2 linked regions of the Homo sapiens genome follow. The protein of the gene in region 1 interacts with the protein of each later gene in a biochemical or structural test. Each region holds a gene or a part of one and is shown on either strand. Other genes may lie near its edges. The genes, in order: TRIB1 and ACACA.

The links.
Region 2: the proteins of TRIB1 (region 1) and ACACA form a complex in vitro, tested with the Homo sapiens proteins (one study listed by BioGRID).

What each region holds. Positions count from the first base shown.
Region 1 is NC_000008.11:125,433,234-125,438,958, forward strand, and holds the end of TRIB1 (tribbles homolog 1), read left to right. Parts: intron 1-83; coding exon 84-376; intron 377-2,772; coding exon 2,773-3,238; 3' UTR 3,239-5,170; downstream 5,171-5,725. UniProt on the Homo sapiens protein: Adapter protein involved in protein degradation by interacting with COP1 ubiquitin ligase. The COP1-binding motif is masked by autoinhibitory interactions with the protein kinase domain.
Region 2 is NC_000017.11:37,242,777-37,249,955, reverse strand, and holds part of ACACA (acetyl-CoA carboxylase 1), read left to right. Parts: intron 1-1,281; coding exon 1,282-1,363; intron 1,364-1,799; coding exon 1,800-1,945; intron 1,946-2,979; coding exon 2,980-3,130; intron 3,131-4,741; coding exon 4,742-4,876; intron 4,877-4,980; exon of another isoform or gene 4,981-5,155; intron 5,156-5,221; coding exon 5,222-5,368; intron 5,369-6,396; coding exon 6,397-6,585; intron 6,586-7,179. UniProt on the Homo sapiens protein: Cytosolic enzyme that catalyzes the carboxylation of acetyl-CoA to malonyl-CoA, the first and rate-limiting step of de novo fatty acid biosynthesis.

The sequences.
Region 1 (5,725 bases):
AACTTCTGTTCAGCTCCCTCAGGGGTTTGGGAGGCTGCCTTTGCTTTTCTAGCCCCCTAAACGGGCCCCCCTTCTCTCTACAGGTGTTTCCCATTAAACACTACCAGGACAAAATCAGGCCTTACATCCAGCTGCCATCGCACAGCAACATTACTGGCATTGTGGAAGTGATCCTTGGGGAAACCAAGGCCTATGTCTTCTTTGAGAAGGACTTTGGGGACATGCACTCCTATGTGCGAAGCCGGAAGAGGCTGCGGGAAGAGGAAGCCGCCCGGCTCTTCAAGCAGATTGTCTCCGCCGTCGCCCACTGCCACCAGTCAGCCATCGTGCTGGGGGACCTGAAGCTTAGGAAGTTCGTCTTCTCCACGGAGGAGAGGTGAGCGGCCGCCACAGCTTCTCCTGTGGCCTTTTGGAACCAAAGCGGAGGTGCAGGTCATGTAGTTAGGTGCTGTGTGTTGGTGCAAAACAAAGTCAAGGGCTCATATGTCCCAGATTTAGTATTTAGAGCTTCTGTTCCTGAGGAGTCACAGCCAAGGTTGGTTTATTCTGCATTCTCTTGGACGGGGCCTGGGGACACCGTGGCGCTTCTATGGGATGGCAAGTGTTGACAGGGTGCTCTTCCTCTCCTACCCCAGGATCAGGTTCATTCCCCATTGTTGTCAGAAAGGTCAGTTGTCTGGGGTACAAATATTAAACTGCCCTTTACGATATTGCCTTCTGAAGGAAGTGTTCAAATCTTTGCTTATGCCAAGTGCTGTTTTGTACCTGGAAGGTTTCACAGAGCTAGTGAGACTGTCATATATGCAGAATTCCACCCTCTTGTTTCACACAGCATTCCTCTCCCATCCCAGTCCAGGTTCTCTGTAACATCACATTCTCTGGTGACTTTTTAGACAGCTTGTTTGGATCCGTCTTCAGAAAATAGCCACATTGAATAGTAAATGGAAGTTGGTTAGGATGGATTGCTAAATATAGATCATAGCTTACCTCATAAAGAACAAGATGAGCTTGATAAGAGAGTAATGAGGCATTAAGATTCAAAGCTGAGGTTTCAGCTAGAGAATTCAGGAAGCCGCATGAGATAGACCACACTTGATTTTAAGAGCCAGCCACATCCCTTGTGGAAAGATTACAAGCAGTAAGGCTGTAACATTGTAGAGGTGAGAGTGAGTTAGTTTGTTGTAAGAAGTGGGCTTATCTCACCTGTGCATTTTTACCTTTGACTCCAGAGCATATGAAACAGTACAGGGTTGAGCTGTCATAAAGCATGACTTTGTATCTGACCTCGCAATAATTATTGGAACACACTGATTAGCAAAGAAAAGCAAACTGTTGGCAATGAAGAAGTTTCTAATTCCTGGAACATGCTCCTTTGATATGGTGATGCATTTTCTGAAACATGCCTTACACACCTCCTTACTAGCTTTTGAAATCTGCATTGCACAGGCGAATATCATGGGCATGGGGTTTGGCAACCCGGGGGTTAAGCAATGTCAGGCTGACGCTATTCGTGTAACCAGCACAGGTGCAGGGTTTTAGTGCTGTAGCAGCCAATCAGGGGCAGACAGTGTGGGTTGAGTCATATTTTCCGTTTACAGAACCAATGGGTATTTTACATAACGACAGGGAGGTCACGCTGAGGACATACTGAAGTTAGCACATGTATACTACACTCCAGGGAACAGGAAGGCAGAAAAAAAAAAAAACAGACCTTTGAGAGGAAAAGGAATTGACCCATCAGCCAGTACCAAATGTTTGCATTTAACTTCACAAGTGACTTACTGAAACGGGTATTTCAGAGAAGCAGGCAGAGACAGGGTGTCACTGGATATCAGAGCTTCCCCACCACATGGCTTTGAGCTTTGGGGGATCCAGGAGACTTGGGTGGCTGGTTCTGAATAAGGAGGCACCTGCAGCTTCATAAGAGAGCCTTTGACTGAAGGTGTTTTAGACTTTCGTTGTTACCTGAACAGAGACCCCCCCTGTAGAATACATATGCTCACATGTTGATGTGCCATCCCAGGGGGAGTGTGTGTCCCTGTGTAAGAATTTCAGGGTCCCTGCGTCCCTGAAATCCATCAGCCACTTTTGTTTGCTCGCATAACCTCTCTGTCCAGGCAAAGTGTTCTTTGCAGTTAAACACCCCAATAAATGTAATTAACATTCCTTGCAACTTTCCCATCCTAATTGTTGCAGCCTGGGCCCAGGAGGACAAAGTTTGCTCTGTGTGCATGTATCAGTGTGGGCACCAGCGCTGATGACCTGTGTGTAATAGCAGTGACTTTGGGCTCCGTGTTCTGTAATGCAGTGTGGGTCCAGGTAGCCCTGGCAGTCATAAGAGGGAAGATGGGTTCGTAGGATGCTCAGGCCCTCTCTGAAGAAGTAGGATATGCTGCTCTTCCCTGCTAGCTTTTGTAGAGAATGCAGCATTCTGAGACAGGCTCCCAGTTCTGCAATGGGAACTTAGTAAATTGCGTAACTCCTATTAGGATATCTCTTGTAAGCTCCAGCATTATGAATACTATTTGGGGCTTTGCCTCATACCCTCCACCCCAGGCGCTCTGCCGATACTTTGCAAACATTTATTGCAGTTCGTGTTAGTTTGTGAAATCAGGAGCCCTCGGTAGTTGCAGGGCACTGCTTACTGGACGAAGGGGTAAATAGCATTCCTGGAGCCTTTGCTGTTAGTGCCTGTGGGCGCTGTTATTGGGAAGGCTTTGTTTTTCATAGCAGCTGGTGTGGAAATAATGGCTTGGTTCCTCTCTCTTGCAGAACCCAGCTTAGACTAGAAAGTCTAGAAGACACACACATAATGAAGGGGGAAGATGATGCTTTGTCAGACAAACATGGCTGCCCAGCCTACGTGAGCCCTGAGATCCTCAACACCACTGGGACCTACTCCGGAAAGGCTGCGGACGTTTGGAGCCTGGGGGTGATGCTCTACACCCTTCTGGTTGGACGATACCCCTTCCATGACTCAGACCCCAGTGCCCTTTTCTCCAAAATTCGGCGTGGACAGTTCTGCATTCCTGAGCACATTTCCCCCAAAGCCAGGTGCCTCATTCGCAGCCTCTTGAGACGGGAGCCCTCCGAGAGACTCACTGCCCCCGAGATCCTACTGCACCCCTGGTTTGAGTCCGTCTTGGAACCCGGGTACATCGACTCAGAAATAGGAACTTCAGACCAGATTGTTCCAGAGTACCAGGAGGACAGTGACATTAGTTCCTTCTTCTGCTAATCCCCAAAACCTCAGAAACCTCATAATTCTTAACACCTGGCATTTCCATTTCTAAAGATGGACAGGCCCTTTGGCGTGGTACCAACCAGATAATGACTGCATCAGGATGAAAGCTGCTGAACTCGGCATGGCGCCTCCTCTTCTCTGTTGGGATGAGTGACTTTATTGATTTGAGCAGCATATGCTGTGATTGGCTGCCCTGCAAATTTGTTTCCCTTAAGGAACCCTCACCAACTATCTCTGCTGGATTTGGGAGTTCCGCATCTTTTGTGGAGGGCAGAGTATGGACATCTTACACCCGGTGGTCAAGTGTGTAATAAACTTGAGCATTCGAATGGGAGAAAAAGCAAATCGCACAATGACATATTTTGAGTAATAACCGTATTTTTCACAGGGTGACAAATTGGGCCAATAAATCTGCCATCTTTGAACTCATCTTTGGTGGCTAGACTGCTACGGCAGCTTCTCTGATGGGAAAGTTCCTTTTTTGGCTTAACACTCACCCTTTCTTCACACTCACATTTACCAATGACTCTGCTCCGTTTTTGGAGCAGACTGTTTTAAGTTGCTCAGGAGCCTGATGGAACCATGAACCGAGACTCTTCTCTGTTTCCTGCCAAGACCTCATCTGCACTAATGCCTTCTCCCTGACCTTGACACTTCCCCCTTTAGCTATAAAAGCACTTACCAGCCGAACGTGGAACAGTATCACAAAAGATTCCATCTCCCAACGATTTCAGAACTCTGAGCTCAGAGAGACTCCAGATTTTAAAAAATAATTTGAGTGCTTGGAAACTATTAGCTTTTTAAGTTCCTTCCAAATATGTTAGTACCTACCCTTTACTTTTTCCCCAAGACCATCTCAGGGTGGAGCATTCTGTCTAAGAGAAGAAAGATAAGGAGGCTCCCACCCACCTCTCCCAAGAGCAGACATTAAACATCTTTGTGCTTTGAAGAGAGTGAATTTTGGATAGTCTTGTGATTCTCAGACTAACTTCCAGAATTATACTTTAACCCCTCCCAGATATGGTCCGCCTTTGGCATTGTGTGTACATCTGCAGTTTTGCATGGTGGGTTGTTAATATTTCAAATGTGTGGTTTATGAATACGTCTGTATAATCGGCTTCTGGAGTGAAACAGCAAACCCCAAATCTTCAAAGTTGGAAGGAACTTTAAAAATCATCCGGTCCAATCTCTTTCCTCTTTCTGCCACCTCCCAAGGCAGAAATCCCCTCTTCAGCTTCTTTTGTAGGTGGGAATCCAGCCTCTGTTAGATATGTCCAGAGATGGAAACTCACTCCCCTACAAAAGATGGAGCTTAATGGAGAAATTGCAACTTTCATTAAAAAACAAATTCAGATGAAATATCAGTAACTGTCTTGGACAGTGCTGAAATCAGGTGGTTAAACGGGTAAACAAAATATACTGTATTTTGAGAAATGGCACAAAAACAGGCAGTCATCTTTAAGGGCTATGCCTAGGCAAACTACTAACATGCATTGTGAGAATGCCGTGTATACCTCACGTACTGTGTACTTTGTACATATATTTTACCTTTTATACCTATGTTCGATTTTGTTTTGTTTTGTTTTGTTCTGGCTTTGAGGCTTGTTTTGTTGTCTGTGTCTGTCTGAATAACCTGCGTGTCTAAAACCACGTGAAATGTGAATGATTATTGGCAATATTACCTTGACAGAATCATGGGACTTTGAGAAGAGGGAGGACAGAGGCCTCTGTCGCACTAACGCTCTCGTGGTTGCTCGACTGTTGTATCTGTGATACATTATCCGACTAAGGACTCTGGGCTGGCAGGGCCTTCTGCCGGGAAAGCTAGAAACACTAGGTTCTTCCTGTACATACGTGTATATATGTGAACAGTGAGATGGCCGTTTCTGACTTGTAGAGAAATTTTAATAAACCTGGTTTCGTAAATAGGTGTGGTGAATTTCTTTCGAGTTCCATCTGCTTTGCCTTTTGCAATTTCATGCAGAGGTTGCAAAGGTCTCTGGCCTCAGGACTTACAGTCTAGTTGGGGGTGAGCAGCAAGGGGAAGGTGGAAAAGTAGAGATGATGAGGATCATCGATGACCTTTGGCAGACTTGAACCCATTTGCTTTTCTCATTTCAGTGGGCAAATTTATTTTGATGGATGAAGCCCATTGGGTGTTGATACGTGCTTTGGGTTGAATTTAGACTCGGGAAACATTTTTTATTTTTTATACTCTTTCATAGCAGAATCAGAATCAAGAAACGTTTGAAGGTGAGCATTCATAAATTAACCTTGAGTTGTAAAAATCAGCTTGTCTTTTTTGGGCCGTGGACCCTTGAGAATTTGATAAAGCTATGACCACTCCTGAGAACAGTGTCACATGTATAAAACAAAATTTTGTTATCATTGCAGAGGTTCACACAGATCTCTGAAGGCATCATGGGACTTCCGATTGTGAACCAATCCCTCTTCATTAGACTTAATTAAAATGGCTAAGCA
Region 2 (7,179 bases), on another chromosome or scaffold:
TATAAAATGATCAGCTCTCGTGAGACTTATTCACTACCATGAGAACAGTATGGGGGAACCGCCCCCATGATTCAAGTATCTCCCACTGGGTCCGTCCCACACCACAAGAGAATTATGGGAGCTACAGTTCAAGATGAGATTTGAGTGGGAACACAGCCGAACCATATCAACATGCAATATTTGTTTCTTCCCACCTCCTGGTTTTTTAAAACTCAAATGGTAGCATGCTGTGAAGCTGTTATTTACCTTGCTTTTTTAACTCAACAGTATATTTTTTAAAGTGTTTTTTAGTTCACATCTTTTTAATGTCTGTATGTTTTGTTCCACATGTGAAAACATGCGCAACATCACTAATCATTAAGTAAATAAAATCAAAACCATGATGAGATACCACCTCACACCCATTAGGATGCCCACTGTCAAAAAACAGAAAATAGCAAGTATTGGCAAGTACGTAGAGAAATTGGGACACTTGTGCACTCTTGATGGGAATGTAAAATGATGCAGCCACTATTGAAAAATGGTATTGCAATTACTGAAAAAATTAAAAATAGAATTACCCTATGATCTGGTAATACCACTTCTGGGTATTCTGAAAGAATTGAAAGCAGGGTCTGAAAGATACTTGCACAGCCACATTCATAGGAGGATTATTCACAGTAGCTAAAAGATGGGAGCAACTCAGATGTTGGTTGATGGATGACTGGATAAACAAAATGTGGCATATACATACAATACAGTATTATTCAGCCTTAAAGAAGAAGGAAATTCTGACACATGCTAAAACATAGGTGGATCTTAAGGACATTAGGGCAAGTGAATTAAGCCTGTCACAAAAAGACAAATACTATATGGTTTTACTTATATGAAGTATGAAGAGTAGTCAGACTCATAGAACTAGAAAGTAGAATGACGGTTACCAGGAACTGGGGGGAGGGCGAAATTGGGAGTTGTTAATGGGTGTAGAGTTTCACTTTTGCCAGTTGAAAAAGTCCTGCAGATTGGTTGCAGAATAGTGTTAATATCCCCAACACTATAGAACTGTGCATTTTGTAATGGTTAAGATGGCAAATTTAATGTAATGTGTATTTTACCCTAATTTAAAAAAATCCATTGTAAGATTCATAATTGATGTGATCAATTCCTTACAAACGATCATTTAGGTATTTAGGTTGTTTCTAGTCTTTTGTTATTCTAGGAAATGCTACAATCAATAATGTTTTAGATTCTCTTATAACTGTTAGAACTTTGTAGTAAGTTCCTCTCTCATCGTTCTTTCAGGGGTCAAGTCCTTCCTGCTCATACACTTCTGAATACAGTAGATGTTGAACTTATCTATGAGGGAGTCAAGTATGTACTTAAGGTATGCAGAACCCCATTGGAGCTTGCACCTTACTTTTTTAGCTATCTTTCTTTAGGTTGAGAGGCAGGAGAAAAAGTTTGATTTAATGCAGGGATGGGGGTATTAGTGAAATTACCGTCATTATTTTTGTCAGTGTCCTGAAGCAGCGTTTGTTGTTCTATGAAAATCTTTTTTGTTGTTCTTCAACTTCACATACACTGCCAAGAGATAAAGGAGAGACAGAGAACAACCACAGTTGGGGAAAATCAACTAAGGTTGCCCTCTTTGCTTACAGCAGGACTGAGCCATGTCCACAGACACTGATGCAAATAGCATCAGTGCCATGAATTTTCTTCCTCCTGACAGATCTTTCTTATCTGTATTTTTGAAGCATTCAAATTTCATTTGGAGCTGTACCTGGAAGGGACACACTGATCCTCATTCTCATTCCCTACAGGTGACTCGACAGTCCCCCAACTCCTATGTGGTGATCATGAATGGCTCATGTGTAGAAGTAGATGTACATCGGCTGAGTGACGGTGGACTGCTCTTGTCCTATGATGGCAGCAGTTATACTACGTATATGAAAGAGGAAGTGGATAGGTAAGTGGCTGTTTGAGGTCCATTTGCTGGTCATCCTGTTAGCCTTTTCTCTTATTAGCTACTAGCTCTTGGGATTTTCCCAGGCTTTTCTTGGTACTCATTTGTAGTTAAAAAAAAAAAAAATAGTACATGCACTTAACAAAAATATCAAGAGTATTAAAGTGTTTATAATTAAAAACATGTCTCCCTACCACTCCAGTGTATGTGGACAATGAAAAATAAGTTCCCCTTTTTATAAGTAACCATTGTTAAAAGTTTCTTACATATTTGAGTAGAAATTTTATATGCATATACAAGTTACACTCATGTACATACTGTTTTTCTTTAAATACATTCACAAATGTGGCTGGGCGCGGTGGCTCACGCCTGTAATCCCAGCACTTTGGGAGGCCGAGGCAGGTGGATCACCTGAGGCTGGGAGTTCAAGACCGGTGTGGCCAATGTGGTGAAACCCTGTCTCTACTAAAAATACAAAATTAACCAGATGTGGTGGCTTATGCCTGTAGTCCCAGCTACTTGGGAGGCAGAGGCAGGAGAATCACGTGAACCTGGGAGGTGGAGGTTGCGGTGAGCCGAGATCACGCCATTGCACTCCAGTCTGGGCAACAAGAGCAAAACTCCGTATCAAAAAAAAAAGAAATTCACAAATGTTCAACACCAGTTATGGTGTTATGAGAATGAAATAAATTAACATGTTGAAAATGTGTAGAACATTGCCACAACATAGCTAGGCTTCAAGAAATGTTAGCTATTACGTCATCAATATCTTTGTGTGTGTTTTTTTAAATGGTGGTACCTGTTATTTTTAATAGTCATGTGGTATTCCATTATATGATTATACTATATTTAATCTGATCCTTATTGAAGGAAATTTATGTTAATTGACATTGTAAACAAATATGCAGTGAATATGTCTGTGTGTGTGTATAATAAAGTTTTCAGGATTTTTTTTCTTTGAAGGTTGACATTCTCTACCATTCTCCTTTACATCCTGAGGTGCTTTCTTAGCTTACATACTTCCACTTGTCTCCTAGATATCGCATCACAATTGGCAATAAAACCTGTGTGTTTGAGAAGGAAAATGACCCATCGGTGATGCGCTCACCTTCTGCTGGGAAGTTAATCCAGTACATTGTAGAAGATGGAGGTCATGTGTTTGCCGGCCAGTGCTATGCTGAGATTGAGGTCAGGGTGGTGAAAGGACTGTGGGATCATGGGAGGGGAAGGTAGGAAAAGGGTCGGCTGGGATGGACTAGGACTGAAAAGTTACAGAAAGGAGGCTGGGCACAGTGGCTTGTGCCTGTAATCCTACCACTTTGGGAGGCTGAGGCAGGAAGATCGCTTGAGCCCAGGAGTTCGAGACTAGCCTGGGCAAGATGGTGAGACCCCATCTCTATGAAAAATTAAAAAATTAGCGGCGTACAGTGGCACATGCCTGTAGACCCAGCCACTCTGGTGTCTAAGGCGGGAGGATCCCTTGAGCCCAGGAATTCAAGGCAGCAGTGAATGGAGATTGTACCACTGTACTGGAGTGGTACAATTTGTGGCCTGCGTCACAAATCAAGACCCTATTTCTAAAAAATTAAAAAAAAAGGTAACAGATTGGAAATAAGAATGAAAAAGAAACATCAGTTGGCTTAATTAGAAGTGCGAACCTTAAGATTTTTAAAACACATAGGCAAATGAGGAATCTCTAGTTCTAAAAATAGATACTAGGCAATAGCACTTGTTGAATGTTAGGTGTCCTAACTGCTGGCTATCCAGAGAAAATACATGGAGGTGGGGCACAAAACAGACAAGAAATGTCATGTGATTAATTTTAAGAGAGCTAAGCATAGAGTGCAGAGGGTCACCTAACCCAAATCAAGCTAAGCTTGTATGGGAAGATATTCTGAAAGAAGAGACATTTGATCTTAGTTTTGAAAGACAGATAGTGATAGAGCAGGTGAAGAAGGGCAGGGAAGAGTGCTTAAAGTTGAAGGAATAGCATGTACAAAGACAGAAGCAAGACAGCACAGTGTATTTAGGGAACTGCAAGTATGTGTTGGTGTGGCTTGAGAATAGACTAAGGTTTAATGGGGAGGGACAAGCAAAGGTGCTAAAGAAGTAATGTGAGATCTTGAATGTGAGGTTATGAAGGATCTTATAAACCATACTAGTAAGTTTTCACTATCCTGGAGGCAGCAGGTAATCTCTGAAAGATTTAAGTGGAAAAGTAGTATGATGAGATTTGGGGTCTAGGAAGATTGCTTTTCGTGACCTTGAGGGAGGTATGTAGCAAGTAGGGAGATCTCTTAGGGGGTCTTTGAAGTACTTTGGGCCAGAAATGAAGAAGGCGTAAACCGAAGAGTTGGCAAGAGAGGAAGATTTTTGAGAAAGGTTTAGAAGATATGTCTGGCTGGGTTGGTAATTGGTAGGTAAGGGAGAAAGAGGAGTGAAGAATGATCCTTAGGTTTTGGCCTGGTTGTCTTAGATTGGATTCACTGGTATGAGGATATTAAATTGTTCCTTACTTTCTAAGTACAAAACAAATATAATCACAAATTATGCCAAAATGGTTGTAAAAGTTAGAAAGGAGAAATGTCAATAACTGTTATTAATTCCTAAAGTGAGGTACTGAGAGATTTTCTAATTGCTTGCCTTGATAGTCCCTAGGAGATGATGGTAAATTCCCATTTTTTCTTGGTCAAATTAGGTGTGGTCCAACTTAGATGCTAAGGGAAAAATTTTAGTTCTTTTAAGCACTCATCTGTGTAAAGAGAGATAAATCTGAGTCTAGTTTATTTTTCACTATAGGTAATGAAGATGGTAATGACCTTAACAGCTGTGGAGTCTGGCTGTATCCATTACGTCAAGCGACCTGGAGCAGCTCTTGACCCTGGCTGTGTACTAGCCAAAATGCAACTGGACAACCCCAGCAAGGTTCAGCAGGTGAGTAGGAAGGTGCTCCGAATATTGCTCTCTAAGAGCTAAAGAACTTGGTGGTTTGGAGAGGCAAGTGATTTCAATGCTTGGTTTGCCAGTGTTTTCTTTAGCTTTGTCCCCTATTAATCTTATGCCTTGTATTTGTGCCTGTAGTATTATGGAACTAGAGTTTGCAAGAGTTACTGTAGTACTAAGATTCTGTAATTTCCTTATGATGTTTCCTCTATTGACTTCCCTCCTGGTAGCTGGGTATGATGTCTCGATTTTGAATGATAACTCTTAAGTGCAGTGGTGTGTTTGTACCTTAGATCAAAAGTAGTAGATGACTTGATCTCTTGTTGGGGTTGACAGGCTGAACTTCACACAGGTAGTCTGCCACGGATCCAGAGCACGGCACTCAGAGGCGAGAAACTCCATCGAGTGTTCCATTATGTCCTGGATAATCTGGTCAATGTAATGAATGGATACTGCCTTCCAGATCCTTTCTTTAGCAGCAAGGTATGTATCACGTCTCCTGGGGAAGGGATGTACAAATGGGATACCTATTCTCCAAAATAGTTCCAAGTCTCATAATGATTGTTTAAGAGGGAGGAAAAGAAAGCTGTTTGGCCTAGAACTCTTTCACCTTCAGTTGTGGGACTTGAGGTCTTTAAATCCATGTTTCTTATCCTTGTCATGGACTTCACATTTAATTGTGATTACTCCTTTTTTTTTTTCCTCGAGACGGAGTCTTGCTCTGTTGCCCAGGCTGGAGTGCAATGGCACAAACTCAGCTGACTGCAACCTCCACCTCCTGGGTTCAAGTGATTCTCCTGCCTCAACCTCCTGAGTAGTGGGGATTGTAGGCACGTGCCACCAGGCGCGGCTAATTTTTTTTTTTTTTTTTTAGTAGAGGTGGGGTTTCACCACGTTGGCCAGACTGGTCTTGAACTCCTGACTTTGTGATCTGCCCGCCTCGGCCTCCCAAAGTGCTGGGATTATAGGCGTGAGCCACTGTGCCCGCCCGTGATTAGTCCTTTTTAAACTGGAGAATAGGGGCAATGTTAGATGCTTACGTTGCAATTTCAAAGTACTCTATGATAGTTGGCTCACGCCTGTAATCTCACCACTTTGGGAAGCTGAGATGGAAAGATCGCTTGAGGCCAGGAGTTTGAGACCAGCCTGATCAACATAGCAAGACCCCATATCTATTGAAAATTATATAAATTTTTATTGAAAAGAAGTAGTATATGATAGTGAATTCAGATATAGTTGACTCTTGAACAATACAGGTTTGAACTGTGTGGGTCCACTTATATGTGGATTTTTTCAGCCAAACATGGATCAAAATTACAGTATTGATGAGATATGGAACCCACAACTATTTCTATACATGGGTTCCGTAGGGCTCAAGTATGTGCAGATTTTCATATATGAGTGGTGGTTCTGGAACCAATTTCCCACGTATACAGAATGACAACTATATATCTTTTTATTTGGGGGATTGTGTTAACTTGGGTCCTATTTTACCAATGCTTTCTTTCTAGGTAAAAGACTGGGTAGAGCGATTGATGAAAACCCTCAGAGATCCCTCCCTGCCTCTCCTAGAATTGCAAGATATTATGACCAGTGTGTCTGGCCGCATTCCCCCCAATGTGGAGAAGTCTATCAAGAAGGAAATGGCTCAGTATGCTAGCAACATCACATCAGTCCTCTGTCAGTTTCCCAGCCAGCAGGTATTTATAGGATAACACTATATTTTTTTCTGGCTACCAATGCCAGAGTTTATGTTGTAGGATTCCTTCCTATTTGGATCCTCCTTACTTTTTGGATGTTGTGCTTGTATACTTTTAAGCATTGTATTCCTCACAAAACTGCCTCAGGGTACAAACCCAACAGTGAAAGTACTGTATGTGAAGGATAAGTATCTGTAGTTATGAGAAAAGCACACTTGGATCATGTATACCTTATAGCTTTGTTCCTGGGGCTATTCCCTAATTAGAGGTATTTTCATGAATTGAAAATAGAGTGATATTAGTTGATTGATTGATTCATTCATTCACTCATTGATTTAGAGATGGAGTCTAGCTCTGTCACCAGGCTGGAGTGCAGTGGCTGATCTCGGCTCACTGCAACCCCTGCCTCCCGAGTTCAAGCAATTCTCCTGCCTCAGCCTCCTGAGTAGCTGGGATTACATTCACACGCTGCCATGCCAGCTAATTTTTGCATTTTTAGTAGTCACGGGTTTCACCATGTTGGCCAGGATGGTCTCGATCTCCTGACCTCGTGATCCGCCCACCTCGGCCTCCCAAAGTGCTGGGATTACAGGC